Linked DNA regions of Homo sapiens: all the other regions are linked to region 3. The links come from fine-mapping of genetic effects on gene expression. A gene starts in region 3. Each other region holds a variant in brackets. All regions are shown on one strand. Distances are between the middles of the regions. Region 1 has its middle 30 kb from the start of MIR12129. Region 2 has its middle 23 kb from the start of PNMA3. Region 3 holds the start of PNMA3 (PNMA family member 3).

What was found.
Region 1: its variant is fine-mapped to the expression of PNMA3 in kidney cortex (GTEx, PIP 0.97).
Region 2: its variant is fine-mapped to the expression of PNMA3 in whole blood (TOPMed, PIP above 0.99). The same link has a PIP of 0.9 or more in sun-exposed skin and unexposed skin.

The regions. Positions count from the first base shown.
Region 1 is chrX:153,360,320-153,371,354 of GRCh38, forward strand. No RefSeq gene overlaps it. Among named protein-coding and RNA genes, the nearest start is that of MIR12129, 30 kb to the left of the region's middle. The variant G/T (reference allele first, on the strand shown) is at 5,432.
Region 2 is chrX:153,028,009-153,039,043 of GRCh38, forward strand. It overlaps the pseudogene LOC112268308. Among named protein-coding and RNA genes, the nearest start is that of PNMA3, 23 kb to the right of the region's middle. The variant C/T (reference allele first, on the strand shown) is at 4,570.
Region 3 is chrX:153,051,766-153,062,800 of GRCh38, forward strand. PNMA3 (PNMA family member 3) reads left to right here and starts at 4,705. Exons shown (of 2, transcript NM_013364.6): 1 at 4,705-4,873; 2 at 5,185-8,697. The coding sequence starts at 5,291. The coding sequence ends at 6,682. It also overlaps the pseudogene HMGN2P48.

The sequences.
Region 1 (11,035 bases), 310 kb after region 3:
AGTAAAAACTAAATTCCATTCTTAAAGTTCCTTCATTCAGTGCTGCAAACGCTGGTGTGCCAAATCATCGAGTGAGATTTTTTATCCTGTTCTGTGTTATTATTAAAAATGTATGAACAGGCGGGGCACAGTGGCTCACTCCTGTAATGCTAACACTTTGAGAGGCTGAGGTGGGCAGATCACTTGAGCTCAGGAGTTTGAGACCAGCCTGGGCAACATGACAAAACCCCATCTCTACCAAAAATACAAAAAAAAAAAATAGCTGGGCACGATGGCATGCACCCATAGTCCCAGCTACTCAGGAGGCTGAGGTAGGAGGATCACTTGAGCCTGAGAGGCAGAGGTTGCAGTGAGCTATGACTGCACCACTGCACTCCATCCTGAGTGGCAGAATGAGACTATGTCTCAGAAAAAAAAAAGACTATTGTCTATTTTATATTCATTTTTAATTACACAAACAAAACATGAATATAATCTCATTTTAAAATATTAAACAAATACGAATAAAATAAAAACCCCGTTTAGTCACTGTCTGGCCCCTCCCAATCACACCCCCCTTTCTGAGAACATCTGTCCTGACATTTTTCTGCATATTTACCTGCATATATGTACACACACAATAGACAGTTTATCATGCCAGCTGTTTATCATGCAACTTACTTTCTTCACATAACTAAGCGTGGGAGAATGTTGGGAGAGTGTTGTTAACTACAGGTCAGTATTTCATAGCATGAGCATAGTGAGGTTTATTTGACCCTTCCCCTTCTTGGTGAATATTCAGGTATTTTCCAGGGTTTTGCTAATAGAAACAATGCTGCAAGAGCCTTGCTCAGATCTCTTGTGCACAGGTGTGAGCTGTACAACAGATGCTGAGTTAGGTAGAGTGACACTACATTGCTTCAACAAAGAGACCTGCAATAAAGCAGTAGCTTAGAGAAAATTGAGGATCATTTCTCATGGAAGTCTGAGCCATGTAGTCCTGGTTGATGGGGCAGCTGTGCTCCACACAGTCACTCACAGACCCCAGCTCCTCACATTGCCTTTTTCCTCTCTTCTTTAGGACAGCACTTCTCAAACGGTCTATGGTGAAAAGCCAGTTTATTTCATTCAATTGTGGAGTGAAATATTTTTTAACTTGCAATAAAGATGCCATGGTGATATTCTGTTACTATAAAAGCCTTAATATCTGTACTAACCCAATGTAAACTAAAAATAAAATCCTAAGCCCCCAGCTGACTGAACGGACCCCCTCTTGGCCAGGGGGACATTAGAAAACCTTAAAAATGAGTTCACAGCCATGATGAGACAGCAGGTCAGACATGCCTCCCTTTTGGAGATTAAACACAACAACTAACCTGCATTGGTGTTAAAATAGAGATCATAAGACTGACAGAACACACTCTTGATGACAATTAGATGCGAAATTATAAACAGGACCTAAGGCCATGCCACGCAAAGGTTAAGTCCCACACCCCTATACTTACAGAATGAACTGTGCTCTCACTGCCACAAGTTTTTCTTTTTCTCTAGCAGCTAAACAAGCACTGGCCTTGAAATAAGCAAGATTATAAACAATTGCAGCTCAGCCAGCTTCAGACATGGACTAACTGAACCCCTGTTCCACCAGGCATAACTACAGCTTTGATTGGACAAGAGATTGATTTCAGTAACTTTCTCCTGATAAGACCAGCAGCCACATGCTTGTTCTTGCCAGTTTACAGAGATTTCATGCTTGAGTGACTTCATGTCCTGAAAAGACCTTTGGATGTATAGGACCTAACTGTAATACATTTAAATGTTAAGTCTCCACCCCAAAGTGAACATGGGTCATATGTTACATGCATGTTTGTTCAGTACACATGTGTCAGGACCCCCCTTTATGAATATTCATAGCTCTTCCTGTAACCTGTTGAATATGTATGTTTAGCTAACCTGTCCAGCACCAAGATCCTAGCCCAACCCCTCCTCCTTCAAAGTGCCTGTCTCTTGTCTTGGCCAGAGGCACGCTTCCCAGCCTGCAGGACGACCACCTTGCAAGCTGTAACCCTTAAAAAGAAGTAAAGTCTCCTTTCTCCTTTACAAATTTATAGATTTGTTTAAAAGTTAATGCTGGTCATGGACCCACCACTAACAAACAATTTATGGGTGCACAGTGGTTCAGGGACCCTGCTATAGCAGCTCCACTTGAGGAGGAGCTTGAGTGGGGAGTGGGCACCACACTCACCCCAAGGGATGCTGGGCAATCTCGTCTCACTGAGCAGCCTAGCACCCATGAATAATAGCCCTTGGGCCAGAGAGACAATGAGCAGTCTCACCCACAGATCCCCAGAAGTGGCATTTACTGGGTTCAAAAGGTACAGGCATTTTAAAAGTAGATTCTGGCAACGTTCCCTCCAAAAAAGCCTGTACCAAGTGGCAAGAGTTCCCATGTCCCCCCACCCTAGCCAAAACCAACGGGCAAAAATGGCAGGTACTTCCTTATCATTTGCACTTCCCTGATTACTAGTGCAGTCAGGTTGAACATCTTTTTACTATTACAGACCATTCAATGGCATCTTCTGTAAACTGCTCTTTCATACTCTTTGCTGATTTCCCTATGGACATGCAGTTCTTTTTATATGCTTGATAGTAACCCTTTGTTATGTACATTGTAGATGCTTCTTCCACGGTGTTTTTTTGTTTTTGTTTGTTTGCTTGTTTGTTTTTGTTTTTGTTTTTGTTTTTTTGAGACGGAGTCTTGCTCTGTTGCCCAGGCTGGAGTGCAGTGGCGCGATATCGGCTCACTGCAAGCTCCACCTCCAGGGTTCATGCCATTCTCCTGCCTCAGCCTCCTGAGTAGCTGGGACTACAGGCACCTGCCACCACGCCCAGCTAATTTTTTGTATTTTTAGTAGAGATGGGGTTTCACCATGTTAGCCAGGATGGTCTCGATCTCCTGACCTCATGATCCGCCAGCCTCGGCCTCCCAAAGTGTTGGGATTACAAGCGTGAGCCACCGCGCCCAGCCCCACAGTTATTTTTAACTTAGTTAATGGCTCATTTATTGTCCTGTAGAAGTTATATTTTTCACAGTTATGTCCTCAAATGTATCAGGCTTTTCTTTTATGGTGTGTGCATTTTGTGCCTTACTTAATAACATCTTCTTTATCCTCTAGTCTTGTTTTTATAAATTTGCTTGTATAGTTTTCTTTTTTATAGTTTTGTTTTTTATGTTTAGACTTTTTGTTAATCACTCAGGAATATTGTCTTTTCTATGATCTATAGTTAGAATCTATTATTTTGTTTTCCTTACATGAATAACCAATTGTCCCAACACCATCCTTCCCCCGATTATTTGAAATGCCAAGTTCATCACGTAGAAAGTAAGCTCCATGCTTCCATGAGGGCAGAGGCTTTGTTTTCCTCACCCCTAAAATAATGTCTGGCACGTCATGATTTGTCAACTGAATGGATGGATGAATGAATGAATGAACGAATGAATTCTAAATAGCCAAATTTTCATGGGCGTGTTTCTGGAATTTCTGTTGTCCTATCAATTAATATGATGATTCTTGCTTCAATACTCTACTGTTTTAACTATTGCTTTATAAGTTTTGATATCTAGTAGGTTCTTTCTTTTAAGATTTTTTGCCAATCTTGTACATTTCTCTTCCAAATTGATTTAAGATTTGCCTCACAGGTTCTATTGAAATCCTTTGAGGATTATTATTGGGGTTGCATTAAAGTTATAGATTAATTTCAGAAGAGCAGACGTCTTTCAAAGTTGAATCTTTCTATCCAATAACATGATATATCTTATCATTTATTCAGGCTACTTTTATGTCCTGTAGTGAGTTTTTATATTTTTCTTTATATCAGTCTTATGCATTTTTATGCCTTTTAAGTTCAAATGATTTTATAGTTTGCGTTGTTCTGGGGATTACAAGGTTTTTAAAAATAGTATATTGGTTAATTGGTCATTGCAGGAAAGGTAGAGCCTGTGAAAACATCTCATATGAACACTAAAGATTTGTCAGGTGCTTCTTTTAGATTCTTTAGAAAATGAGCACAACATAGCTGAATAATTATAGTCTTTTCTAGTCCAACATTTATACTCTGTATTTCCTTCTTGTCTCGCATTGATCAGGCTGAGTCCATTACTAAAAGTTGGCAAGGATGCTGTAAATAGATGCTGAATTTTATCAAATGCTTTTCCTACATCAGTTGAGATAATATATTATGTTTTCCCTTTAACCAGTAATGAAGTGAATTACATTAATAACTGTGTTAATATTGATCTATCTTTGCATTATTTGAGGGAACCCGTACTTTGACATGATAAAGGATCCTTGTAATGTCCTCATGGATATGAGGTATCTTTGTGTTTTTGTTCATGAGGAAGATTGATCTACACAGTGCTTTTACTGTGCAATCTGATTCCAATTTTGGTATCAGGGTTATAATAGCCTCATAAAATGGGTTTGGATGCTTTCCATCTTTTTCAATGCAGAGAAGGGTTTGTACAATATGAGAATTACCTATTTCAATTCAGATTTAGCAGAATTTAACCATATAACCACCTGGGTCTGATGCAATATTGAAGCATAGATCTTTGACTATCTTTACATTTCTTCTATGGATATTGGTTTATTCTGATTTTCTACTTCTTGACCAATTATTATAATTTGTATTTTCCTAGAAAATTTTCTATTTTATCTATATTTTCTAATGTATTCACATAAAACTATATATAGTATTATTTTTTTGTGTGTGAGACAGAGTCTTGCTCTGTCACCCACGCTGGAGTGCAGTAGCACAGTCTCGGCTCACTGCAACCTCCGCCTCCTGGGTTCAAGTGATTCTCCTGTCTCAGCCCCCTGAGTAGCTGGGATTACAGGCATGTGCCACCATGCCTGACTAATTTTTGTATTTTTAGTAGAGATGGGGTTTCTCCATGTTGCCCAGGCTGGTCTCTAACTCCTAACCTCAGGTGATCTGCCCACCTCAGTCTTCATTGCACCTGGCCTATATATAGTATTCTCTTACAAGTTTTAGAAAAATTGACTCTGCATCTGAAGTTTACACCCTGTCCTGTTTCTCATTATATTTATTTGTTTTTTCACCTTCTTTTCTCCTGACCAATATCTCTATGAATTTGTGCATTTTTAAATATTGGTCTTTTCAACTATTCTGGGCTTTTTGCAATTTATTTATTTTATTAATTATTATTTTCAGTATTGGGGGCTTTCCTTTGGTTACTAATTTCTTATTTTAGTGTTTTGGATTCAATAAATATGATTTCTGCCTTTGAACTTGAGATTTTCTTTGTGACCAAATATGTAGTCAGTCTTGGATAATGTTTCATATACTTTTGAGAAGAAACTCTGCGTTATCTGATTGTCAGATGCAGTTATACACACTGTGCACCTCTTAGGTCAAGCTCCTGACTTGC[G/T]TTATTCAGATCCTCTATATACTTATTTATTTTGTTGTTTCCTTGGTCTGTCAGTTCCTGAGAGAAGTATAGTAAGTCTCTTTCACTCTGACTACGAACTTGTCAATTTTTTCTGAACTTCTATCAAGTTTTTGTTTCACATGTTATGAAACTATATTGGGCACCAAGCCTTTAAGCTTGTGTCTTTTACATATAGGAATAGTCATATTTGTCCCTGAGAAAGTTTTTTGCTTTGGGCTCCATTTTACATGATAGTAGTATTGTTCTACCTGCTTTCTCTCTGTTAGTATTTTCCCGGCATTTTTAAAATCCATTTATTTTGACTCTTCTCATTATTTGTTTTGTAAAGAGACCCTGAGTTTGTTGGGAGTAGTAGTGTTGCAAGTTTCAAATCTACATTTCCCATCCTTCCTTGCAGATAGGGGTGGCCAGTAAAATGAGAGTGAAAGTCACTGGGTGGAGCTTCTGGAAGGTTCCTGACAGTGGGCTGAATTACCAGGAGCTGCCCTGTTTGATCCCCACACTTTCTCTTTCTCCTAACCTAGAACACATATTTGATGGCTGGAGCTTCAGCAGCTATGTTGGTGCGGATAGAGAAAAAAAGCCAAGAAAATCGTAAAGATCTCTCTTGACATCCTCAAGCAACTAACAAAAGCCAGCAACTGCCTACTTCCTTATGTCTCCATACGTGGAAAAAATAAACTCTTTTGTGTTTAAATCCCCACTGCTGGTTTTCTGTTACTCCATTGAACACAGTTCCTAATTAATACATTGCCTGTGGAGGCAACCAGTATTACCCAGTTTTTGTTTATTCTTCTAGAGATATTCTTTTTACTGTCATCACTTTAAGTATATTTTCAACTTTTTATAATGGGCAATTTCAGACATACGCAATAAATAGCACATGGTATAATGAACCTCCACGTACCCACCACCCAACTTCAACAATTATCCATTGACATTCTATGCATGTACATGCACACACACACACACACACACACACACACACACACACACACATTCCTATTTTATACAAATGCTAGCATGCTACTCACACTGTGCTTTACTTTTCTTTCTTAAATTAACAATGTGTGTTGGAGATGGTTTATATCAGCACCTAATTTCTTCATTCTCTTTAATGTCCATCTAGTATTCTTTTATCTTTTCACAAAAATATATCTGTAGAATCAATTCCTGCATGTGCAATTGCTGGGTCAAAAGGTACACAATTTGTAATTTTGATAGATGTTGCCAAATTACCCCCACAGAAGTCGTACCAGGTCCAACTCCCAAAAGTAACATAGGACAGTGCCTATTTGCCCACACTCTTGCCAACATTGGGTGCTATCAAACTTTTCTACTTTTGCCAGTCTGATAAATGAAAGCAGGTAGTTTTGATTTGGATTTCTCTTATTTGGAAGTCATTTGTATTTCTCTCCCGTGAACCGTATTCCTAGTTTATGCCTGTTTTGCTATTGTGTTGCTGTCATTTTTCTTACTATTTTGTAGGAACTATTAAATAATAGGAAAACTAGCCTCCTTGTCTCCAACAGGAATTGCAAATAATTTTCCCGGTTTAACATTTGCCCTGGACTTTGCTGGCAGGAAGTTTTGTGTTGAAGAAACTTTTCGTTTTTATGTACTGAATTAATCAAGCTTCTCTGTTTTGGCTTCTGTCATACTTTAAAAGGCCTTCTCTCTTCCAACATATTTTAAATGTCCCATATTTTCTTCCAATATTTTTATAGCTTTATTTTTTTAATCTTTAAATCTGATCCATCCAGAATTTAGTTGGTTGCACATTATGATGTGGGATTCAACTTCACATTTTTCCCAGATGGCCACCTACTTATCCCTACACCATTTATTGAATAACCCATCTTTCCCCAAGGAACTGAAATAACATTTCTATCATATTCTAAATCCTCGTTTGTATTTGGATGTATTTTAGACTTTCTGTTTTTTCTATTGTTCTGTCTTCTATTCATATATTAGTACTACACAGTTCTTTTAAATTACTCTCAATTTATGTTTTAATATAAGTATTATATTAAATATTACATCAAACATAATATTATGTTATAGTAAGTATTATATTAAATATTACCTCACACATGTTATAAGTATTGTATTAAATATTACATCAAACATATATTATGTTATAAGTATTATATTAAATATTACATCAAACATGTTATAAGTATTATATTAAATATTACATCAAACATATATTATTATAAGTATTATATTAAATATCACATCAAGCATATATTATGTTATAAGTATTATATTAAATGTTATATCAAACATATATTATTATGTTATAGTATTATATTAAATATTACCTCACACGTTATAAGTATTGTATTAAATATTACATCAAACATATATCATTATAAGTATTATATTAAATATTACATCAAACATGTTATAATAAGTATTATATTAAATATTACATCAAACATATATTATGTTATAAGTATTATATTAAATATTACATCAAACATATATCGTTATAAGTATTATATTAAATATGACATCAAAATATTATGTTATAGTATTATATTAAATATTACCTCACACATGTAAGTATTGTATTAAATATTACATCAAACATTATGTTATAAGTATTATATTAAATATCACATCAAACATATATTATTATGTTATAATAAGCATTATATTGGTAGGACTAGTGCCCCTCTCATTAGTCTTCCTTTTCAGAATACTTCTGGCTAATTTTACTCCTTTAGTTTTCTACACCAATGTTAGAATCATCTTGACGAATTCCAAAATCTTCTGTGGTTGTGTGTGTGGGATCATCTTTAATTTAGAGATTGATGTAGGGAAATTTTGCTTCTTTATGAAGTTGACTTTTTCTATCTGAGAACATTATAGACCGTTCCATTCACTCAGGCCTTTTTTGATGGCCCTGAGGAACATTTTAAAATTTCTTTACATAGATCTTGCACATTTCTTGTTAAATTTATTTCAAGGTATTTTATTGTTTTTATTAAATGGCATCTTTTTTTTTATTGTATGTTCTAACTTATTGTTTGTCTCAATGATTTTGTACCCATACAACTTACTGAATTCTCCTTACTCTTCGTAACTTTTTTTTAATTTGTTTTTGTTGCTGTTGTTGTTGTTGTTGTTTGTTTTGAGACGGAGTCTCGCTCTGTCGCCCAGGCTGGAGTGTAGTGGTGCGATCTCGGCTCACTGCAAGCTCCGCCTCCCGGGTTCACGCCATTCTCCTGCCTCAGCCTCCCGAGTAGCTGGGACTACAGGCGCCCGCCACCACACCTGGCTAATTTTTTTGTATTTTTAGTAGAGACGGGGTTTCACTGTGTTAGCCAGGATGGTCTCGATCTCCTGACCTTGTGATCCCCCCACCTCGGCCTCCCAAAGTGCTGGGATTACAGGCGTGAGCCACCGTGCCCGGCCCTACTCTTTGTAACTTTTTTAGTAGATTCCCTTAGATTTTTCCTGATGCAGAGACATATATATAATAGATAATCTGCAAATAATCATTGTTTGAATTCTGCTTGCTAATGTCCCAACTTTTCAGATTGTGAAATACAGCCTAGATACAGAGGACTGTGTAAATCATATATATTTTTTACATGCATTTTCTGCACTTTAAAACTCTACAGTTATAAAGTGAACATACTCAGCTAACCCCCTGGACCCCAGATCAAGGGCTAGAGCCTTGGCCGCCACCCCAGCCCAGAGTGTGTCCCTTGCAATCACCTTCTTATTAAATTTTTCGTAATCTTTTCCTTGCTTTGCATCAGAGTTTTGCCACTGAAGCACACATCCATCCATAAATCATATGATTCCACTTTGCTGTTTTTGAACTTTACATAACTGTAACTGTAATGTATGTTTTTTGTGTGTCTTGCTTCTTTCATGCATCACTGTGTCTTTAAAATCCATCCTTACTATAGCATACTTAGAGTGTATTCCTTTGCATCCCGGTAGAGTATTCCATTGTACAACATTACCATGATGTATTTATCCATCCCACCCCTGCTGAGTATTTGGTTTATTTTCAGCCACCAAATGCTGTGATGAACCATTGTACAATTTTCCTGTGGCTGCTGCAACAAAATACCACAAAGTGGTCGACTTACAATAACAAAAATGGATTCTCCCACAGTTCTGGAAGCTGGAAATCCAAGATCAAGGCATCAGCAGAGCCACACTTCCCCTGAGGGTTTGAGGAGAGATTCTCTTTCTTGCTTCTTCCTCCAGCTTCTGGTGCTCCAGGCTTGAGGCCACATCACTCCACTTTCTACTTCCATATTCACAAAGCCTCTCTCAAGTGGCCTCAGGCCTTTCTCTTATAAGGACACTTCTCATTGGGTTTAGGGCCCACGTGGATAACCAAGGATGATGTAATCTCAAGATCCTTAACTTAATTACATCCACAAAGACCATTTTCCCAAATAAGATCCCATTCATGGTGCCTAGGGATTAGGACGTGGGCATGTATCATTTTTGTTGTGGAGTAGGGGGCACCATTCAATGTATTGCAACCGTCTACACTTGCTTTCTGGGGCCCACATACACAAGTGTCTCTAGAGTTTGTATACTTAGCAGTGGAACTGCTGGGTCATAGGGGAAGTGTGTCTTCAATATTACTACGGGATGCCAACCCTTTTCCCAACGCACACTCCCACCAGCAGTGTGGGAAGTTTCCACTGCTGCACAGCTTTGCCAACTTGCAACTGTGATACCTTTTGGTTTCTGCCAGTCGGGTGGGTGTGTAATGGTATCTCCCACTAACGTCAACTTATAGTTCTGAAATGACAAATGAGGTCGGGCACTTTTCATATGTTGTGAAGAATTGTCTGTTCAAGACTTTGGCCCATTTTTCTATTGTAGTCTATGTATTTTTCTTATTTTTTGTTCCTTCTATCTTCTAGTTACGAGAACTTAGTTACATGTTTGTTTCCCTTCTGTTCTCCAAATCTCCCATCAGAATCTCTCATGTTGCCCATCTCACCAAAACCTATAAGAAAGGGAATTCTGGAAAACATAGTTCAGGCTAGCCAAGTTGACACATTACAAAGCCACCTCAATCCATTTCTTGAACTCTCCTCAAATTACTCAGTCTGCACGTGACAGTCATTTCCTGTCAGACAGCTGACTGTTACAGAAGTGTAGCATGTTTTATCATTCAATAAAATATTTATTAATTCCCATGTTACTGTCCTTGAGCCCTGGATGATTTCAATGTGCATTTCTTCTTTTCTAAACACGTGGGGATTTTTCTAGTTATATACAGTGAGCTTCTTCCTCTCTGCAGTGAGGGAGATGTGCGCCATCTCAGAGAAAGTACGTTAGAAAAAAACCTATTAGATTTGGACTTTTGTGGGGTATTTTGAGGAGGGCCCGAGGAAGCCAGGGTTTGCTCTAAGCACTGTCAGAGAGCGAGGACAAGTCTATGATTGGGTATCTTAGTAAATCTTTTCTCTGGGGAGGGCAGGCTAGAACAAAGCTAAAGCTGTAATTTGTAAAGAAGCAGCAGTCACCCACACTAGCCAAGCAGGAGGAGGACGTTTGGTATTTTGTGGGTTGCACGTTAACCTTGTTTTTATC
Region 2 (11,035 bases), 24 kb before region 3:
GGGCCTCAAGGCGGCCTCCAGAGTGGGCTCCACAGCCTGAAGGTGGCATTTCCCCGTGGGTGGTTGCAGTGTCTGCAGACAGTGAGCAGGCACCAGCGGGACCCCAGAGTGGCTGAGGGCACACTGGGCAGGAGCCAGATCGCTGTCCCCCCAGGCAGTAGGTGCGACAGCGGGTCCTGGTCTGGAGCCTGAGGAGAGGGGAGGAGGGTCTCCTTGCTGCAGGAGTCTGGGTGGGGTGAGCTCCTGGCTGCAGGGCACCTCTGGCTACAGAAGGGGACGATGGGAGAGAGAGGGGCTCTGGCTGTGGGGGAAGGGGACTCCTGGCTGCTGATGTGGGAGGCGTGGGAGGGGGTTGCCAGGTTGCAGGGAGGATGGCATTAGGGAGAGGGCTCCTGGTCAAGTGCTGGGAAAAAGAGGAGGTGGGCACATCCAGCTGCAGGGTTGCACATGATGGTTGGAGGGGCTCCAGCTGTAAGTTTTGTGATCAGGGGCTGTTCACCAGGTGAAAGAGGCGCTTCCTGCTGTGGAGGTGGGGGGTGCAGTGAAGGACTCTGAGCTGCAGCAGTAGGGGTGGGGGAGCATGGGCTGTGACACTGGGCAGGGGAGATGCTTCAGGCCCTGCATTTGGGAGTGGCTGGTCTCTGGCTGTGCGGTGGGGGTGGGCTGACTGGCAGCAACGTCCCTCTCTCCCCTTTGCACTCACAGGCTGCGTCAGAGACTGCAACAGTCAGCACACATTCCTGTCTGATCAGGCTCCCTCCCTCAAGTCCTCTGCGATGGCTCTGGCGATGCTTCGGGACTGGTGCAGGAGGATGGGTGTGAACGCAGAGCGCTCTCTGCTCATCCTGGATATCCCTGACGACTGCGAGGAACATGAGTTCCAGGAGGCCGTGCGGGCTGCCCTGTCGCCCCTGGGCAGGTACCGAGTGCTCATCAAGGTCTTCAGAAAGGAGCTCGGGGCCAGGGCAGCCTTGGTGGAATTCGCTGAGGGTTTAAACCAAAGCTTGATTCCCCGCCAAATAGCAGGCAAAGGGGGACCCTGGAAAGTGATCTCCCTGCCCCAGGCCCTTGATGCTGAGTTTCAGGATATACCCAGTTTCCCTGCATAGCCCCAGGGGCAAGCAGTGGCCAGAGGTGCAGGTGAGGCAGGAGCTGCAGGTGAGGCAGGATCTGTAGGTGAGGCAGGAGGTGTGAATGAGGAAAGATCTGCAGGTGAGGCAGGAGCTGCAGGTGAGGAAGAAGAGGCAGGTGATGGAGGAGCTGCAGGTGCAGCAGGAGCCATAGGTGAAACAGGAGCTGTGGGTAAGGGTGAGGCAGAAGCCACAGGTGAGGGAGGATCTGCAAGTGAGGCAGAAGGTGCAGGTGAGGGAGGAGCTGGAGATGAGTTGAGAGTTGCAGAAGAGGCAAGAGAGTCAGATGAGGGAGCCGCAGGTGATACAGGACCTGCAGGTGAGGCAGGAGCTGTGGGTGAGGCAGGAGCTGTGGGTGAGGCAGGAGCTGCGGGTGAGGCAGGAGCTGTGGGTGAGGCAAGAGGGACAAATGTAACAAGAGCCTGGGTCCAGCCTCGGCGCTGCACCCTGCAGGCTGTGCTGGAAAACAGGGCCTACCAGGAACTGAGACCCTTTTCAGGGAGGGAGCAGCCAGGCTGCGAGGAAGAGTCCTTTGAGAGCTGGATGGAGCACGCCAAGGATATGCTGCAGCTGTGGTACCATGCGTCGGAAAGGGAGAGGAAGAGATGGCTGCTGGAGAGCTTGGGTGGCCCAGCCCTGGACGTTGTGAGCGGCCTCCTAGAGGAAGATCCCAACTTGGCGGCACTGGACTGCCAGGCGCTGCTGGACTGCTGGGCAGCGGTGCTGGGGCAGGCGTTTGGAAACCGGGACCCTCGAATGACTTCCAGGCTGAAGTTCCTGACCTGAACGCAGGGGCCCTTTGCCTTCCTGGTATGCCTGGAAGGCCTGCTGCAGATGGCCCTGGAGAAGGGGGCCGTCTGCCCGGCCCTGGCCAACCACCTGTGACTGCGGTAGGTGCAGCCTCAGGCCTGCCCTGGCGAAGCACTCCAGAATACCCTGAGGGGGATGCACTGGAGAGGAGGCCGCCCTACTTCCTGGGGCTGCTTCAGCTCATCCAGGAGATGGAGGCGTGGGCGGCCTCCCCAGTGAGGAGCCAGCATGTTGTGGCCTGGCCAGTGGCCACAGTGGAAAGTGAAGATCCAGTTGCCGCCCAGGCAGCTCCTGCCTGTGGAGATGCTGCTCAGGCCTCCTCAGCCCAGGAAGACGCCAGCCAGGCTGACCCTGGCGTGGAAGATGCTGCTGAGACTGCTCCTGCCACCAAAGAGGCCGCCAGGAGCACCCCTGCCATTAGGGAAGGTGAAAATGCCCCTGCAGGCCTCGAAGGAGCCAGAGGGTCTTGTCCAGGCAGGAGGCCAGGAGGCTGAGGAGCCCCCCGACCCAAGGGGGTCTTATGTTCATACTGGAGGAGTTGGAAAATGAGGATGGGGCCAGGAAGGTTGGTCAGCCCAAATCCTCCCCAGGCAAATAGGCTCAGAGGGCCCCAGGGCCTCCTCTCCTCTCAGGCCGCAGCATCCTGGAGGCAGTGGGGAGGCCAGGCCAGGGCTGGTCCCTCATCCCACATCAGGATCGGGGCCCCCCACCTCCCTCCAAAGGGCCCTGGCCACCACCATCAGCCCTTCCCGGTGACCCAGATGACCACGTTGATACCAAATGGGGTTGGGGGAGGCACCCCTGCTTTGCACCCAGTGCTGCACCCAGCCCCAGCCCCAAACCCTGCCGTCTCTGGGGGGCTGGCCAGGAGGGAGCCCTGAGTGGCCAGCTGCGACCTGGGTGGGGGCACCTGAAGATGTCTGTCCCCCACCCCTTGTCCTGGGTTGGGAGAGACAGGGGAAAGAGGTCCTCTCAAGGGTGCCAGCTGCCTGGGTCTCCCAAGAGGGTTGCCCCATTTGCCGTCCCCGGGGCAGGCTGCCCCCTGTTCTGGGAAGCCCACCCTCACCTGTTTAGGCCCCGTAGTGACCCACGCGCCCAGCAGACGCCCACCCACTGCTAGCTGTCGTTCCTGTGCAAAGTTGTGTGTTGTGCACCCACCCGGGCGGCCGCCACTAGGCCCGGGGCATGTGCTGTGAGCTTCCTGTGAGCCCAGGTTCTGCTCACTGCTGTCTGTCCTGCATCTTAAACACCACCTCTGCTTTCCTGGTGTAGATCTAGGCCAGTGGCTGCTTGTTCTCGTGGAGCTGTGTGTGTTCTTCTCTGAGCTGCTCCTCCCCGGAGGCCCCCAGCACAGACCCAGGAGATGGCGGGAAGGAGGAACCAGGGCGCGGCCAATGCTCACCCTGTGACCACGATGGTAACCATGACTGTGGGAGGAAGAGCCGGACCCGGGACGGAGTGGGGCTGCCCTGCCTGAGGCTCCCAGGAGAGCTTTATGCTTTGGCATTCCACCCCTGTTGTTACTTGTGACTGTTTCCTCGACCTGGTGGGCTGTTCCCTGCTGTGTTTACTGGTGTCCTGTGACTGTCTGTGATGACTATAGGGCAGGGCCCTGCCCCAGCAGATGGGCTTGGGAGGGGGCTCCCTGAAGCCGGTGGACACTGCCAGAGTCCACGTCCTGGCAAGAGGCGGGCCCTGGGGCCCTCGGGAAGGAGGGAGGTAGCAGTGGGGTCGGCAGCAGGACGGGGGTAGACGAGGCGCCTTGCCAGGAACCCCAGGAGGAGGGATCCTAGGACCTGTGTCCTGTAGTGGCTGTTTGCAGTTTCTCTCTGTGTTGTGGTTCCCTTCTTTTCAGTGATTTCGGTACACGTTTCTCTTCAATAAATTTCATTCCATTTTCCAGCCGGTCTCGCCTCTGCTGTGGGAAACTAGTGGGAAAGGTCTCTTTGGGATAAAATGGAAGTTGGGGGACAACAGTGGCCTGGAATTCTGACCCTATTGTGCTCACTGGGATACGGTCAGGGCATAGTAGGCCAGCGATTGTAGAGAATGACCTAACTGCGATGGTGGTTCCAACCCAGAGTCAGTGGCTTATGAGGATGAGGAAAGAAACCAAGCTGAACATGCTGGATGGTGCCAGTTGACGGAACACTGCCGTGCGAGGGCAATGTGTGGCTTGCTCCCCAGGGCATGCATGGAGGCTCCCAGAACGAAGTGCATAAGACGTGGAAGGGCAGGCAGGGGACAGCAGGCTGGGGCGGAGGCCTGGGTTGAAGCTCTAGCATAGACATCTTTTTAACTGTTCCTCAGTTCCTCATGTTTATCCTGTGTGTGGAGCTTTCACCATCTCTTTGGAAAGACAGAAGAGATGGATAAGGAAAAGGAGTAGAACAGAGCGGCACCCCTTGCCTTCCCCAGAGTCTGGGTAGCGGGCGCAGGACGTGTCGCCTGTCCAAATGCGCAACTTTCACCAGTGTACGCTACGCGTGCGCGCCTGTGCACCTTGACGAGCACGCAGCCGTCATGAGTGCGCCTGGGCACGCCGCCATTTCCTGCAGCCGCGACAGCACGGTCGTATATTTCCGGTTGTCATTTTATTCTTTTTGAGAAATGGTCTCGCTCTGTTGCC[C/T]AGGGTGGAGTGTAGTGGCGCTGTCATAGCTCACTGCAACCCCGACCTCCTGGGCTCAAGCGATTCTCCCGCCTCAGCCTCCCGACTAGCTGGGACCACAGGCGTGCAACCACCATACCCGGAACCACAGTCACAGTCGGTCGCAGTGCCCGCTGGGAAAATGCGACCGTCCACAAAGCGAAACGGCCATCGGGGCGAGTTCGGCCTCGGCGGGGATTCTCCTGAGGTCACGCCCGCTCTGGCCGCCAGAGGACGCCCGAGGATCACGAATGGGCCCGAGGAGCTGGCTGCCCCTTCCCACGCTCAAGGTCTGCAGCCGTGGCCAGAGTGGCCTTGGGGTGACCGCGCGTGGACCGTCGCCGGCGGGAGGGAGCGCGGTCCCGCGGGGGCCGAACGGGGCTCCTGTGGCCTGAGCTTGTTTCGCAGGGAGCCCTGGCGGCCATGGCTCTGGGACACCAGACAACGGTCGTCAGGGCTGTCCAGGGTAAGGGGGTGTGGACGTGCAGACAGGGAGGGCAGCTGGACCCTCCAACCATGCTGGGCCCTTGGGCTGACCGGGGCTCGTCTGTGGGGCTCAGTGAGGAGGGACTTTGTTCCCTAGGAGTTTGATGAGGGAGCGCCATGGGGGTGGCGTCATCCTGACATCCTGCAGGGCAGTGGAGCCTTACTTTCCCTAGCCCCAGAGATCATGAAGTCTCTCTTTGTTTAAAGGTAGAAACCAAGGACAAGAGATTGGTGGGAACTGCTCTGGTTACAAAATTGCAGAACCAGACTTCTTAATTCTGGGACCCGTGCTGCTTTCATTACACTCTACCGCTTCCAGTTTGTGATGTGCTCCTTCTGTCAACAGTTAGCAAGCCTGCTGGCTCTGTTGCTCTGGCATGAGTCCAAAGGTGAAGGATGGGGGGCTGATGCATTTTGATACTCAAAATGTCTCCTAAACTGTCCAGTATGGTATACCATCTCCTGCCTCCTTGATGCTTGTGATGGCACCCCAAACAGTATATTTGGAAATCTAACATTCTTACTCCTGCCTGGACAGGCCCTCAGTATCATTCAACGAAAGCTCAATTATTACACAGGGAGTGACAGCACAGTTGTGACTTTCCCATTGTCATTTTTTTTTTTTTTGACACAGTCTTGCTCTGTTGCCCAGTCTGGTCTATGTCCACAGTATCTTCCTGGTCTGCTTATACGAAGTCAAGCAATTTCTGTGCTGGCATGGGTTCCAAGCACCTGAGAAAGCCCAATGTCATCTCTTTTCACAGTGGTTTTGTCTTTTGGCCGTACTTTATATTCCTTCTAGCATATAACCCCTTCCTGACTGAAGGCCAGGCAGAGCACGGGCCACTTTAAAGTTTAACTTTCAAGTAACTAAGATCCTCCCTTTCCCAGAGCAGCAGCAGTGCTTGGAGAAGCACCTGCCTCAGTCTTTATTCTCCCTAGAAACTGACCTTTCCTTTTCCCATTGTAACTTACCTCTGAGCAAGTTGGCAAAAAAGCCTGCATGCTCCCTTCTTTGCTGCATGAAGGAAATTCAAACCATGCAATTTCCTGTCTCCATGTGGGAATTCTCATCTTGGCCCCCCACTTCTAACCTCAGTGAAAACCTAGGCCACTCTCCTTCCTTTGCTTCCAGAAGCCATTTTGGAATTGCTGGAGATGACTGCTCCCCTCTCCTGAAAACCCTCAATTACATAAGTAGTGAAACTTTTCTTGTCCTCTTGGTGTGTATGTGGTGTCATCAGTCTTAACATCCTAGCCAATTTTTGAGTGGGGATCTATCTGCCTCTGAAGGTGACCTTAAAAACAATTTTGCAGGAGGCATAATGGAGGTTAGAGCCACTTTAAAGACCTCTAGGATGTATTAACAGGTATGGTGGTCCCCATCATATCTCCATTTTATCCGCCAGTTCTGTCCCCTGTAGAAATTGGATGAATTCTGGAGAATGAGTGTACACTACCTCATGCTTTATCAAGTAGTAATCCCAGTTGCAGATGCTGTGTACCAGACACAGTATCATTGCTCAAATAGATTTATAAGGCCTTAGGTGCATAGTATGTGGCCATTGGTTTGATGAAGGCATTCCTTTCCATTTCAGCTGGTCAAGGAAAGAGGATAAGAAGCTGCTGTGGTTTGAATGTTTGTCCCCTCCTAAACCTATTGTTGTGGGAAATTGAGGACTGGAGAGACCAATATGGAGAACAGGAGGATTGTTTATTTTAGCTACACACCAGCTTAGTGGATTTGTATTCAAGAAGCTGAGCATTAAATAAAGACAGAGCAGGGTTTTTATAAGCGGATTTACAAAAGTAAAATAAAAGTAGCTAATTATATGATAGGTTATATAATTTATAGCATAGCATAACTTGTGGCCTTGCATAGCCAGTGGCCTTGTAGCTGCGTTGAAAGAAAAATAAGAACTGGCTAAATACAGATATTTGTAAAACATAGGTATGCTTAAGAAGCCAGGGAAAGGAGTAACAGTAAAGGAATTTGTGTTTCTCTCTTTTTTTTCCTTTAACCTTGTTTTGGAGGGGAGGGGTGTCTGGAGCCCATTCCTTTGGCCTTGGCTCCTTAAACAGCGTTATCTTATAACTGTCTTTGAAGTTAGCTTGCTAGGCAGAGGAAAACCCCTTTTTTTCTTCTTAACCCTTGCCTTGCCTGTTACTTTTTTTTTTTGGAGTGAATGAATGCATATTTATTTTTAAATTTCTGCCTCACTATGTTGAAATTTAATCCCCAGTGTGACAGTATTGAGAGGTGTGGCTTTAAGCCTTACACTTTTCAAGTGTAAGGGAAGCAGATGAAGTTCCCCAGTCATTGGTTTTTTTTTTTTTCACTTGTTTTAAAACTAACAAAAAGTATTCATTCTACTTTTGAATTGTCCCCAAAATGCCAAGTCTTCCCCTTCTCAGCCAGGCAGGATTTGGGAGAATGCCTTCTAAAAACACACTGCTCCTTTCTGGTATTGGGCCACTAAATCCCTTACCTTACTTACTCCCTTACTCATTGGCAAGGCCCTCATGAGTAGATTAGTGCAATCATTGATTAATGGGTTAATGGATTAATGGGTTATCATGGGAGTGATACTGGTGGCTTTATAGGAAGAAGAAGAGAGACAGAGAGACCGGAGCACACGCAGCCATCTCACCATGTGATGTGTTGTGGCACCTCAGGACTCTTCAGAGAGTCCCCACCATCAAGAAGGCCCTCACCAGATGCTGCCCCTTTACCTTGGACTTCTCAGCCTCCATAACTGTAAGACCTGTTTTTTTCTTTATAATTACCCAGTTTCAAGTGTTCGATTATAAGCAATGGAAAATGGACTGACACAGAAGCATTTCACGATCATGTGGACAAACAAAAATCTTTATTTACAATTTGTCTCAGGACCATGTTAACGCTTCTGCCCTGTGTTATACCTATCCTGTGGCATAATATAGTTCAAAGAGATGTGGATCATCTAGACAGTGCATAGAATGGCACGTGGATCTGTTACACTGACATCATCATTCTGATTGGACAGGACAAGTAAGAGGCAGCCTACACACTGGGAGGCCTTGGTGAGACACGTGCACTCCAGAGGGTGGGCAATAAGCCCTATGCGGATTCAGAGATCTGCTACATCAGTGAAATTTTTAGGGGTCCAGTGTTCGGAGGCGTGCCAGGATGTCCCCTCCAAAGGAAAAGACAAATTACTGCCTCTTGAATCCTCCACCACAAAGAAAGTAGTGCACCTGGTGGACCTCTTTAGGTTTTGGGGAGAAAACATTCCACCCATAAGATAACTTCTACGGTTCACACACTGGTTGACACAGAAGGCTGGGAGATTTGAGAGAGGCTGGGAGCAGGAAAGGGATCTGCAGCAGGTCCAGGCTGCAGTGCAACTCTTGAACCGTCACATCTGACAGACCCTGCAGTGTCAGAGGTGTCAGTGGTAAGAATGGAGGCAGGGTAGGGTTTAAGGCCAGTCCCCATGGGAGGATCGCCACACAGGCCTCTAGGGTTCTGGAGCAGGGCCATGCCACCCGCATCAGAGAATCATACACCTTTTTAGAAAACAGCTTCTGGTGTGCTTCTGGGCCCTTGCAGAGACAACGCTTGACCATGGGACACCAAGTGACTGTGTGTCACTTATAAGCTGGAATTTCTCCTTATAAGCTGGGTCTGTCAGACCACAAAGTGAAAAGTCAGATGACCCTCCAGCAATCCATTGCACGATGGAAATAGTTCATCTAGTCAGGAACAGAAGTGTGAGTGAGCTATGGAAGTAGCAGCCAAGATGCCTGTGTGACCCATCACAGTTACACCAGTGCCCTTCCCTTAGCTCACACCTATGGCTGTGCGATCTCATGTGGCTAGATGAAGGAGGAGGAAAAGGCCTGAATATTGCTTATGAATGGTTTGGCTCAGTCTCTGAAATGGACAGCAGCTATATTCCAGCCACACCCACCTAGGGACGTCCCTGAAAGACAGTGGGGAGGGAAGATCTTCCTGATGGGTGGAGCTTTAAGGTGTGCACCTTATCATCCACTTTGTGTGGAAGAAGTGGCCCAGGGTAGGAATATGCACAGATTTCTGAGCAGTGGCCAATGGACTAGCCAAAGGTCTAAAAAGGAAAGGACTGGAAAACTGGAGACAAGGAAGTCTGGGGTAGAGGCATATGGATAAACATGGGAGTGAGCATGAAGGAAAAGCTTACGTCACATACAAGTGCCCACCAGAAAGCATCAACAGTAGAAGAGGAGCTGAACTGTCAAGTGCACAAAATGACTCAGCAAGTTGGATATTAGCCACCCTTCACCATCAGCCAGTCCAGAACTGACACAATGGGCACATAAACAGATGGGCCACAGTGTGAGAGATGGAGACTGCTCACGGGCCCAGAAGCATGGAATCCTACTTAACAAGGCCTTTATTGCTGCTACTAGCTCTGAAGGTCCAGTCTTCCAGTGAAAGAGACCAATGCTGAGACCCCAATATGGCACCATTTCTCCATGTTGGGTCCATTATCTCTTAGAAGAGACATCCATTCTTTCTTACAAGGACAGAAACCTATTCTGAGTATGGGTTTTCCTTTCCTCCTGGCAGAACTTCAGCTAACATCACTATCCAGGGGCTTTCAGAGTGCATGACCTGCAGACCTGGAATCCCACACAAGAAGGTATCCTACCAAGGGACACACTTCAGAGTGAAGGAGGTATGTGCATGAGCCCATGAGCATGGGATAGTCTGGTGTCACACTGTGCCACCCAGAAGCTACTAGCTTGATAGAGTGTTGGAATGGCCTTCTGGAGGTGTAGCTGGAGCACAGGCTTAGAGGCAATACCCTACAAGGATGAGGCGCCATCCTCCAGGATGCAGTATATGCACTGTGTCAGAGATGTCCATGTGGCACTGTGTCCCCAGTAGGAAGAATACATGGGTCTGGAAGCCATAGGGTGGAGGCCAAAGTGGCCTCACTTTCCATCTTTCCCAGTGACCTACTCAGGGGCCAACATTGTGCTTCCCATCTCCTTAAATCTAGGCTCTGCAGGGTAGAGGTTCTGGTTCTTTGCACTCTTATCAGGACATACAGCCTGGGTTCCAGTTGTACTTATAGCCACCACTGCTGCCTGGCATTTTGGGGTTCCTTGATTCCAGACACCAGCAAGCAGGAAGAATCATCATGGTGGTGGGAGTAATAGAGAATTATCAAGGAAGAGGTAAGACTGCTGTTATATAATAGAGGCAGAGAGGAATATGCTCGGGACTCAGATGATCTTTTCTAGTGACTTTTGGTACTCTTTTGCCTCATTGGCTGTAAGTGATCAAGTACAGTGTGAGTGGCCTAAGAAGGGTATGGATACGAGGGACTCAGACCACTCAGGGATGAAGGAAGCTGCCAAAACTGCAGAGGTTATAGTTGAGGGTGAGGGAAATCTAGAATGGATAGTGGAAGAGGGTAATCATAAATACCTGTTGCAGTTGCAGGACCAACTGCACTGATGGGGCTTGTACTTTGTCCCGCCAACTTCTCTCTTCTTCTTTTTCTTTTTTTTTTTTTTTTTTGAGACAGAGTCTCACTCTGTCACCCAGGCTGGAGTGCAGTGGTGCGATCTCTGCTCACTGCAAGCTCTGCCTCTCAGGTTCACACCATTCTCCTGCCTCAGCCTCCCGAGTAGCTGGGACTACAGGCCTGCCACCATGCCTGGCTAAATTTTTTTTTTTTTTTTGTATTTTTAGTAGGGACGGGATTTCACCGTGTTAGCCAGGATGGTCTTGATCTCCTGACCTCGTGATCTGCCCACCTCGGCCTCCCAAAGTGCTGGGATTACAGGCATGAGCCACCGCACCCGACTGCCAACTTCTAAGTTTACCTTCAGAAAGAGTGGCCCACAGGAGCCAAGGAGGAACTGCTTCCCGAGCAGCTATGGAGTAGTGGATCTGTGTGGCACAAAGGATGGCCTGTGGCAGCTATGG
Region 3 (11,035 bases):
GGTTTGAGTGAGTTAAGTCTATGATGAAAGGTGGAAAGGGAGAAGAGGACATAAAAACAATTTGTTTTTCCATACCAAGGCTTTTGTGCCAAGGTGGCCATGTGTGTCAAAGTCAGGGAATCTCTCCTCTTGGGAACCAATAGGAAGTCTCTCAAACCTAGAAGGGAAATGTGTTTTCCCCACATCAATCCAGCTTCATAGACATTCTATTAGTGACCTATGCCCCTTTCCCCCCAAACAACAATGAAGTGCTCTGCGTGCTAACAGCATAGCTTAAAAAAAGTAAAACAAAATTATGAATTTTTATAAAACTCGATAAAAAATAGTATTTCAAACTCTTCAGTCACCAGAAGTACAGTTATCAAAAATGCAGACACTTCACGTGGCATCTCCAGGACCTTCAGCTTTCTGTGCCTGGTCTGTTTTGTCATCTCCATTTTCTGCAGGGTTATTCCCCTCCCTGCCAGCATTAGCATTTACCCTTTTCCCTATGGGTACCTTCACTCACTTTTTTGCAGGGGCCTCTTTAGGCTTAGACTCTGGCTTTGGAGAAGCAGGTTTAGCAGACAACCTCTTGGATCTTTTCTGTGGTTTGTCCTTCATGTTGGATTTATCTCCTTTAGCATCCCCTTCAGCCTTTCTCTTGGGGATGGTGGTGATAGTGGCGGGACATAGGCTCTGGGGGAGGGATGCAGTGGTGCACGGGCTTTGGCCACTCTGGGGAGTCGTTCTTGTCTCTTTACTTCCAGATTCTTTTTTTTATTTTTTTATTTTTTTTATCTTATAAGTAATTCCTTTGCTCTCCTCTGGCTCTCATGTATCCTCATTATTAAATAGTTATGCCATCTAGTCCAGATTCCATTTCAGAAACCTTTCAGCATTTTTACCATTCGAAGATTTGCAGTTTAATCTTTTTATTAGTTTTCTAGAGTGACTGTACCAAAGTACCACACTAGGTGGCTAAAGCAATAGAAATGGAATGTCTCACATTTCTGGAGTCCAGAAGACCATCAAAGTATTGTCAGTGTTGGTTCCTTCTGAGAGTGGTGGGGGAGAATCTGCTCAGAGACCTTTCTCCTAGCTTCTGGGGCTTTACTGCCAATCTTTGGCATTCACTGGTTTGTGGAAGCATCACCCCAATCTCTGCCTTCATCTTCACATGGTGTTCTCCCTGAGCATCTTCATGTTTCTGTGTTCAAATTTCCTTGCTATAAGGACACTTGTCACATTGGATTAGGGGCCCACACCACTCCAGCTTGATTTCATGTTAACTAAGTACATCTACAATGACCCTATTTTCAAATAAGGTCACATTCTGAGGTGCTAAGGATTAGGACTTCACCATATGAATTGAGGTATGGGGAGACATAATTCAACCCATAACAGTCTTAAATTAAGAGGTGTAATTTCTGTCCATTTGTGTATTTTCCCAGAGAAATTTCTTAAAGTCCAAATAAAAAACTTAATTGGTCCAATAATGATGATTCAGAGGAGCTATTGTTATCTGAGCTTCTATAAAAATTAGCGTGCTTTGGGCTGCAAGTACCAAAAGTGTGACTCAATGCCAGCCATATGAATGAACCATCTTGGGTGCCCAGCCCTGTTGAGTCTTTAGACTTGATTCTCAACTCATATCTCAATGCAACCACATGAGAGATCCCATGAGTGAACTGCCCAGCTAAACCTTCTCTCAATTTCTCACTTACAAAATTGTGAGCAGAATAAAATGGTTGTTTTAAGCCAGTATGTTTTGGGTAGCTGGTTGTGCAGGAATAGTAACTTAATGGGAAGAAATATCCAAAGTAAATAAATAACTCCTATGAAAGAATTAAAAAAGAGAAGCACCCCAGTTGAGAATTGAGACAAAAATAGGAATTTCAATCAAGAGGAATAAAAAATGCCCCCCCAACCAAGGTATTAAATCTAATTCATAATCATAGAAATTCTACATAAAAGCATAATAACAATTGACATTCCTCAGGATTAACAACATTTAAGTCACACAATATGAAATGTTAGTGATGATATGGAGCTTGATGGAAACATAAATTTGTACAGCAACCCAGAAGACAATTTGGCAATGTCTCTGAATACTAAAGATAGTCTTTGATTCAGCAATGCCATGGCTAGGTACATAACTTAGAGGAACTCTCCAAGAATATTTAAAGCAGCATTGTTTCTGATAGTAAAAATGGGAAACAACTTAAATATCTGTCAATGGGAAAATTGATAAATTTTGGTACACACACACACACAATGGAATACTATACAGAAGTGAAAATTGAGGAATAAAATTTGCTTATATCAAAATGGTGATTCTCACAAACAATAATTAGTTAATACAGTGATGACTATGAATAGTATGATATCATTTCTGCCAAGTGTAAAAGAGACAAAGACAATTTTTTAGGGATATAGTCATTTGCAGAAAAAGCACGAAGAAATGCACATGGAGGACAAGAGTGGGAGACAACAGGGAAGGAATCTGCAGGCGCTTACCCTCACTGGCAGTGTTTTATGTCTTCATCCAGTTACTACATTCAGGAGTACTGGATGTACTTTTTAAGTACGTTTTGTATGTTAAATATTGCAGAATGTATTTTATAAAGTATTTAATTACCAGAAACTCTTTAAAAAATTCCCAGGCCTGTTTCAGACTCAGCAGATCAGATTGCAGAGGTGGGGCCCATGAATCTGCCCCTTTTGTGACCCCGATAGTCACTACTGGTCTAAGCCAGGGCAAGGCCACCCCGGTGGAGGTTGCTTCCTTCATGCTGTATTATGTTTTTCACTTTACAAGTAATAATGTTTATCCATCAGTTCCCCAACTTTGGTGCTGCTGTGTTATCTACCATGCAAGGAGATGGGGAAGCAAAAGTAATTAAGACATTTCCACTGGTTTCAAGGGCAAAGGTTAACTCCAATATAAAGGAGTTCTAAAACTTTTCAAATTGGACATATTCACATCTATTGTCTTGATACCAGTGTTTCCAAATCCTTTTTTCCCAATGCCCAGAACATCCACAGATCACTGCGTCTGTCTGGGAACTTCACAGGCTTCTTTCCGGAGACATTCCAGACACGCCCCTCTGCCTTGGCATGAATACTTGGCATCTCCCCTTGACATCTCAAGCTTTGTCATTTACTCACTGTGTGACCTTGGGCCAGTAGTGTCCCTTCTCTGAACCTCTGTTTCCACCCCTGCAAGTTGGGCAGATGAAGGTTCAGTTTGAAGCTGGTTGAGCCCTTGGAGTGACAAAGCAAGGGACTGTGAATGGACAAAAATGAGAGAAATAAATTCTAATAGGCATGAAGCAACCAGGGGAGAAATAGTCCCAATTCTACCCAAAGACTGATGGGCACTAATTTAGAATCCAGTCTCAATTCTACCTTCAATACGGTGTGTGACCTTGAAAATGTCTCTTAATCTCTCTGAGCCTCATGAGTCAAATCAGGATAATGTTAATACCTGCTTCAGAGTTCTGGTGAGGAGCAAATGAAATAACTCCTGTAAAGATGTTTCAGGAATTCTGTCTGACCAGGAAAAAGCCCTTGGGGCCATTTCTTCTTGGTCCCTGACAAGTGCCAGGCTGACGAGCAGAACTCAGGGTGGGGCAGGAAGTCAGTGGACAGTTTTGTGCCCCACTCACTGCAAGGTGGCCTCCCAGACTTGGCTGGATGGGTGAACCTGGCCTGAAAATCAACCACAAGCCCCTTTTCGTTGTGTTTGGAGAGGAGCTGAAGCTGTGTGAATAGGAGTTGAGCATGCGGCTGGCAGAGCAGGCAGGACCCACAGAACACCTGGGCCCACTGCCTGAGGGACAGTCACTCCCTTCTTCATTTGGCTGCTGCCCTGGGATCAAACGGATACAATAGAACCCACGGCGCACGGCTGCCAAGGAAGGGCAGGCCCAAGGGATTGGGCTCCAAGTCCTGGAAGTGGTTTCCCAAGTCACTAGATTTGCAGCGCACAAAACCGGAAAGGTCCCGGTAAACCTGTCCACTGGCACCTGGGCAGCGAAGCGCTTTGGCCGGAGGGCCTCAGGTCCCAGCAGCGGGATGGACAGCGGGGAGATGGCTGACCCTCCTTGGGGTGGTGTGCGTGACCTGCATGAGTGCCTGGGGCATCTCCTGCACGGAATGGCACCCGCACCAGGTGCCCCTGGCCTCGCCAGCCAGAGGACCAGTCCTGGACGGGGAGGGGGAGGACAAGAGCAGGTGAACAGGCCCCAGAACCCGGCTCCCTGACCCTGGCCATAATGCAGAGCTGCCTGGCGCACCTCAGACCACTCCCTGGCCCTCTGGTGGGCACGCCGGGGTGCAGACCCCTCGCCCCGCTGGCACCTCCGTGGCACGTGCGGGAGGGGCAGGAGCCGGGACCAGGAACCGCTGTGGTGAGAGCCAAAGGCACGGGGACTGGCCGCCACAGACCTTTGGCCACCGCAGTGGGGATGGGGGTGGGCGGGCGCTTGTGTGCCCGGGGGCCCGGGGGCCCCCGTGGCGGGGGGGCTAGGGGAGAGGAGCAGGTGACGTCACCCGGGGACCTGGGGCCCCCAGGGGCGGCGGCGAGAGCCCGACCTCGTGACCCGTCCGCGCCAATGGCCCTGCGGTCTCCCGGACGACGCGGAGGGGTCCGCGCTGCACCGCCGCCGCGCCCCCGCCCCGTGTCCGCACTGCAGAGAGCCGCGGCGAGCAGGCGCCGGCGCACTGGCCCACGTGCTGCGCGAGCGAGGGAGAGCCACAGTCTGAGCGAACGTCCGCGCTGGGAGCCAGGGGTGCCCGACCCCCGTCCGCCGCCGCCGCCGCCGCCGCGCATAGCCCCCGGAGAGCCCTCTGGGGACCCCGACCAGAAGGGACCTTGCCCTGGGAGAAGGTAACAGACCCACCTGGGGAGGGAGACGCTGGGCCCCGGGAGACTCCGCCGCCCCTCGCCTGTCCGCCCTATCAGAACTGAAGCAGCCTGCAGGGCAGGGGTCCAGGGTCCTGGGGCAGCGCGGGGAGGGGGCTGAGGCCCGCAGAGACCCCACGGGGGGTGGGGGTGGGGGGCTGGGCAGGGGCGGGGCCTGGCTGCAGAGGCGCCGCCCGGGGAGGAGGGCGGCTGGGGGTGGGGGTGGGGGTGGGCGTGGATGTGGGCGTGCGGAGAGGTGGGCATTAACCTCGCTCTCGCCCTGCTCGCATTCACAGGCTGTGGAGACCTGGGCCTTCTGCGATCACCCTAGGAGTTGATCCAGATATGTGCCTCACGCCCTGATCACTCCCCCCAAATTAGTATCCGCAGAGATTCGAGGACATGCCGTTGACCTTGTTACAGGACTGGTGTCGGGGGGAACACCTGAACACCCGGAGGTGCATGCTCATCCTGGGGATCCCCGAGGACTGTGGCGAGGATGAGTTTGAGGAGACACTCCAGGAGGCTTGCAGGCACCTGGGCAGATACAGGGTGATTGGCAGGATGTTTAGGAGGGAGGAGAACGCCCAGGCGATTCTACTGGAGCTGGCACAAGATATCGACTATGCTTTGCTCCCAAGGGAAATACCAGGAAAGGGGGGGCCCTGGGAAGTGATTGTAAAACCCCGTAACTCAGATGGGGAATTTCTCAACAGACTGAACCGCTTCTTAGAGGAGGAGAGGCGGACCGTGTCAGATATGAACCGAGTCCTCGGGTCGGACACCAATTGTTCGGCTCCAAGAGTGACTATATCACCAGAGTTCTGGACCTGGGCCCAGACTCTGGGGGCAGCAGTGCAGCCTCTGCTAGAACAAATGTTGTACCGAGAACTAAGAGTGTTTTCTGGGAACACCATATCCATCCCAGGTGCACTGGCCTTTGATGCCTGGCTTGAGCACACCACTGAGATGCTACAGATGTGGCAGGTGCCCGAGGGGGAAAAGAGGCGGAGGCTGATGGAATGCTTACGGGGCCCTGCTCTCCAGGTGGTCAGTGGGCTCCGGGCCAGCAATGCTTCCATAACTGTGGAGGAGTGCCTGGCTGCCTTGCAGCAGGTGTTCGGACCTGTGGAGAGCCATAAAATTGCCCAGGTGAAGTTGTGTAAAGCCTATCAGGAGGCAGGAGAGAAAGTATCTAGCTTTGTGTTACGTTTGGAACCCCTGCTCCAAAGAGCTGTAGAAAACAATGTGGTATCACGTAGAAACGTGAATCAGACTCGCCTGAAACGAGTCTTAAGTGGGGCCACCCTTCCTGACAAACTCCGAGATAAGCTTAAGCTGATGAAACAGCGAAGGAAGCCTCCTGGTTTCCTGGCCCTGGTGAAGCTCCTGCGTGAGGAGGAGGAATGGGAGGCCACTTTAGGTCCAGATAGGGAGAGTCTGGAGGGGCTGGAAGTAGCCCCAAGGCCACCTGCCAGGATCACTGGGGTTGGGGCAGTACCTCTCCCTGCCTCTGGCAACAGTTTTGATGCGAGGCCTTCCCAGGGCTACCGGCGCCGGAGGGGCAGAGGCCAACACCGAAGGGGTGGTGTGGCAAGGGCTGGCTCTCGAGGCTCAAGAAAACGGAAACGCCACACATTCTGCTATAGCTGTGGGGAAGACGGCCACATCAGGGTACAGTGCATCAACCCCTCCAACCTGCTCTTGGTAAAGCAGAAGAAACAGGCTGCAGTTGAGTCGGGAAACGGGAACTGGGCTTGGGACAAGAGCCATCCCAAGTCCAAGGCCAAGTAGGCTCGGGAGAACAGGGCAACATTTCCTACCACAGGCCAAGGAGACAAAAGAGATATTGGAAGGAGGGGAAAGAGAAGCCCAGACAAACAGCAGATGAGTTGAGTGGGGCAGAGGGACAGGGCAGCCAGACCAAGGCCAAGCCTTCTCACCCTTGGCCAGCTGGAAGGGACTTCAGCAACCAAGACCACCTGGCAACAGGCTCAGTGGGGGTCAGGTCCAGGTCCCCGAAGAGGTGCTGGAGAGGAAAGCAGGGAGCCACTGCATCCAGCACATGGGGTGCCTGGGCCTCAGATGGGGACCCCAAAGAAGCAGAAGCTGAAGAAGGTACGGCTGGGGGTTCTGTCCTGCTCATCCAACCACCCCTAAATACCCACCCTGTGGACTTTGAGCTGAACATGCCCACTGGCCCCCAGGCCACATGGGACCTGGAGGAGCCTACCTGGGGCCTGCCCCTGCCAGCAGGTGCCAGGGCTGGTGAGGAAGAGCTGGGGGGCAGAGGTAAAGCCCTGCAGGGGAGGCCACAGGGTCCATCCCGTCTTCAGGATCATCTACACTGCACTAGGGGAGCCCCAGGAAGGCAGCACCCTGGAGGCCCTGTGCCAGTGAGGACAGGAGACCCTAAGGCCCCGGGAGCCCAGTGCCAGCCAGAGGTTGTGCAGGCAAGGAGACCAAAGATTGATGAGAAGACCCCCAGCAGGGGTACTGGGTACCCGGCAGGCCAGTGCCCTCACAGTTGACTTGGACCAGGGTGGCTGTGAAGGGAAGTCTTTGTTGCAAAGGAGGAGGAAAAGGGAGGACTTGGTAGGGTTTTGTTTCTTCTGCTTGTTTCTGTACAGGGCCACCAGACTCCTGGAGAGATCAAGCAAGGAGAACCTGGGGCTGCCATGGCCAAAGCAACTCAACAGATGCCAATGCCAATTCCAAGGCCAGCCACAACCCTGCCACCTTGGGGAATCCAGCCTGGAGGCATCCCCTAAGCAGCCAGCCATGGCCTGGGTGGAGGCACCTGAAGACGTCTGTCCCAAACTCCCCCAGCCCTGAGCTGGGAGATGACAGGGGGAAAGAGGCCCTCTCAAGGGTGCCAGATGCCTGGGTCTCCCAAGAGGGGTCCCCCAACTCACTGTTCCCGGGACAGGCTGCCCCCTGTTCCAGGAAGCTCATCCTCACCTGTGTAGGCCCCTGTAGTGACCCACGCGTCCAGCAGACGCCCACCCACCGCTAGCCGTTGTTCCTGTGCAAAGTAGTGTGCTATGCACCCACCCAGGTGGCCGCCTCTGGGCCCAAGGCACATGCTGTGAGCTTCCTGTGAGCCCAGGCTCTGCTCACTGCTGTCCCGCGTCATGAGCACCACCTCTGCTTTCCCTGTGTAGATCTAGGCCAGTGGCTGCTTGTTCTTGTGGAGCTGTGTGTGTTCTTCTCTGAGCAGCTCCTCCCCGGAGTCCCCCAGCACAGTCCCAGGAGATGACAGGAAGGAAGCACCAGGGCAAGGCGGACGCTCACCCTGTGACCACGATGGTGACCGTGACTGTGGGAGGAAGAACTGGACCCAGGACGGAGCGGGGCTGCCCTGCCTGAGGCTCCCGAGGAGCTTTGTGCTTTGGTGTTCCACCCCTGTTGTTACTCATGACTCAGTTTCCTTAACCTGGTAGGGTGTTCCCTGCTGTGTTTTCCAGTGTCCTGTGACTGTCCTGTGCGGGCCATAGGGCAGGGCCCTGCCCCAGCAGATGGGCTTGGGAGGGGACTCCCTAAAGCCAGTGGACACTGCCAGAGTCTACCTTCCTGGCAAGAGGCAGACCCCGGGGCCCTCAGGAAGGAGGGAGTTGGCAGCGGGGGCTGCAGCAGGAGTAGGAGCAGATGAGGCGTCTTGCCAGGAACCTCAGGAGGAGGGGGCCCGGGACCTGTGTGGGACCTGTGTCCTGTGGTGGCCGTTTGCAGTTTCTCTCTGTGTTGTGATTCCCTTCTCTTCAACGTTTTCAGTACGTGTTTCTCTTCAATAAACTTCATTCAGTGTTCCAGCCGGCCTCGCCTCTGCTGTGGGAAACTGGGGATGAGGTTGGCTGGGCATGGGGTTGGGGTGGAGTGAGGGCCACAGTGGCTTTGTTAACACTGGTGTATACTTGGGGCTCGGTCTGCAAGGCATTCTAGAATGCCCTATCTGCGCATGTTGGTCATGAGCTAGGGTTCACGGCCCACGGACCCAGGCAAAGAAACCCAGCTGAGCAGGCTGGATAGTCCCAGTAGACAGGACACTGGTAGGCCCAGGCAGTGGCTGGTTGGGTCCTCAGGGCACTGGTTGAGCTTCTCAGAAATGAATAACATATTTAAGGAAGGGTGAGGGACAGCAGGCTGGACCAGTGGCCCCAGGATCCCTTGTATCACTATTGGGCTTCCACACCTGGAGCATCAAAACCAGGCCCATCTCTGTGAGTGTGTGTGAGATGGTGAATATGTGTGAGTATGCGTACTAGTGATTGTGTGAGAGTGAGTGTAGGAGAGTTTGTGTGTGTCATGTGTCAGCGAATGTGTGAATATGTGAGTGTGTGAGATGGTGTGTGAATATGTTAATGTGTGTTTGTATTTGAGTGTGAGTATGCATCAGTTTTTGTGTGTGAGTGAATGTGTGTTAGTGGTCAAATGTATGTTTATGTGTTTAATGTATATGTGTGTTAGTAAAAGTATGTGAATATGTGAGAGTGAGACGGTGTGTGAATGTGTGTATGACAGTGAATGTGTGGGTGACTTTGTGTTGTTGAGTGTGCACATGAGTGAATGTGTGTTTCAGAGTGTGTTTATGAGTTTGTGTGTGCATATGCGTGAATGTGTGGAATGGGTGAGTGTGTGAGTATGTGTGTTAGTGTGTATGAGACAGTTTATGAGAGGGTGTGTGAATTTTCGTGTGAGTGCAAATGTTGGGTGATTGATTTTTTTTTTATTTCTTTAAGGGATCAAGAGGGTTGGAAAGAAGGCAGAGAGAGGTAGAAGTTTCTTTGCCACCAAACAGCAGTGAGACTTTTGTTGCCTCTAGGCTGATGGCCCTAGAGCTGGGCCTACTAGCTAATCATCCATTTCTGACCCCTGGCACATTCCTATTTTTAAGGTTCACATGGCTTCTTGGCCTTTTGGCTACGATCAAGTGCAGTATCTATTTTAAGGTCCCTAATCTAAAAATAGATATGTGTTACAGTTATTGTGTGATTAAAGCTGATAGAAACATCCTCGTATGAATCTCTGTGGACTTTTGTTTTCCTTTCTCCCGAGTAAATACCTAGGAATGGAATGGCTGGGCCACAGGGTAGTGGTATATTTAACTTTATAAGAAACTTCACACAGATTTCCAAAGCTATTGTGACAATTTATACTCTAATGAGCAGTGCTCGTTTCTTAGGGTACTCCAAAAAATCTTGTATTGCCAGCTTTAAACTTTTAACCATTCTGTTGGGTGACTCACTGTGGTATCTCACTGAGGCATTAGTTTGCATTTCTGTGATGACTAATAATATCGAGCACTTTTTCATGTGCTTATTAGCTATCTGTCTTCCTTAGCGAAGTGCCTGTTCAAGTCCCTTGCCTAGTTTTTACCTGGCTTTTTAAATTTTTTATTAGAGTTGTGCAAGTTGTTAAAATACTCTGGATACAAGTACTTTGATATGTGTGCTGGGAACACTTTTTACCAGTTGTGTCTTTCTTATGCATATTCTTAATGGTGTCTGTTCATAAGCTGATGGGTTTAATTATAATGAAGTCCATTGCATCATTTGTTTCTTTTTACAATGACCACTGCCTGGGTCTTGCCTAAGATATCTTTCATTGGCCCACATTTGCAAACATATTGATCTATGTTTTCTTCTAGAACCTCTGTAGTTGTAGCTTTTGCATTTAGGTCTTAGAATATACCTATATTGGCTGGGTGCAGTGGCTCACACCTGTAATCCCAGCACTTTGGAAGGCCAAGGTGGGAGGATTGCCTGAACCCAGGAGTTTGAGACCAGCCTTAGCCTCAAAAAACAAACAAACAAACAACCCCAAAAGTTAGCTGGGTGTGGTGGTGCATGCCTATTATCCCAGCTACTTGGGAGGCTGAGGTGGGAGGATCTCTTGAGCCCAGGAGATTGAGCCTGTGCTCTAGCCTGGGCGACAGAGCCAGCTCCTGTCTCAAAAAAAAAAAGTACCTAAATTAGTTTTTGGTGTGGGGTCAAGATGCATTTGAAAAGACTTTCCTTTCGACATTGATTTTATTTAGAGTGTTGGTCAAAAACTGTTTGACTTTGTACCTGTGGGTCTATCACAGGGCTCCTCTCTTCTACATGTTTCACTTCTAAAGCTTCCATTTGATTCTCCATTATCGGTGTTGTT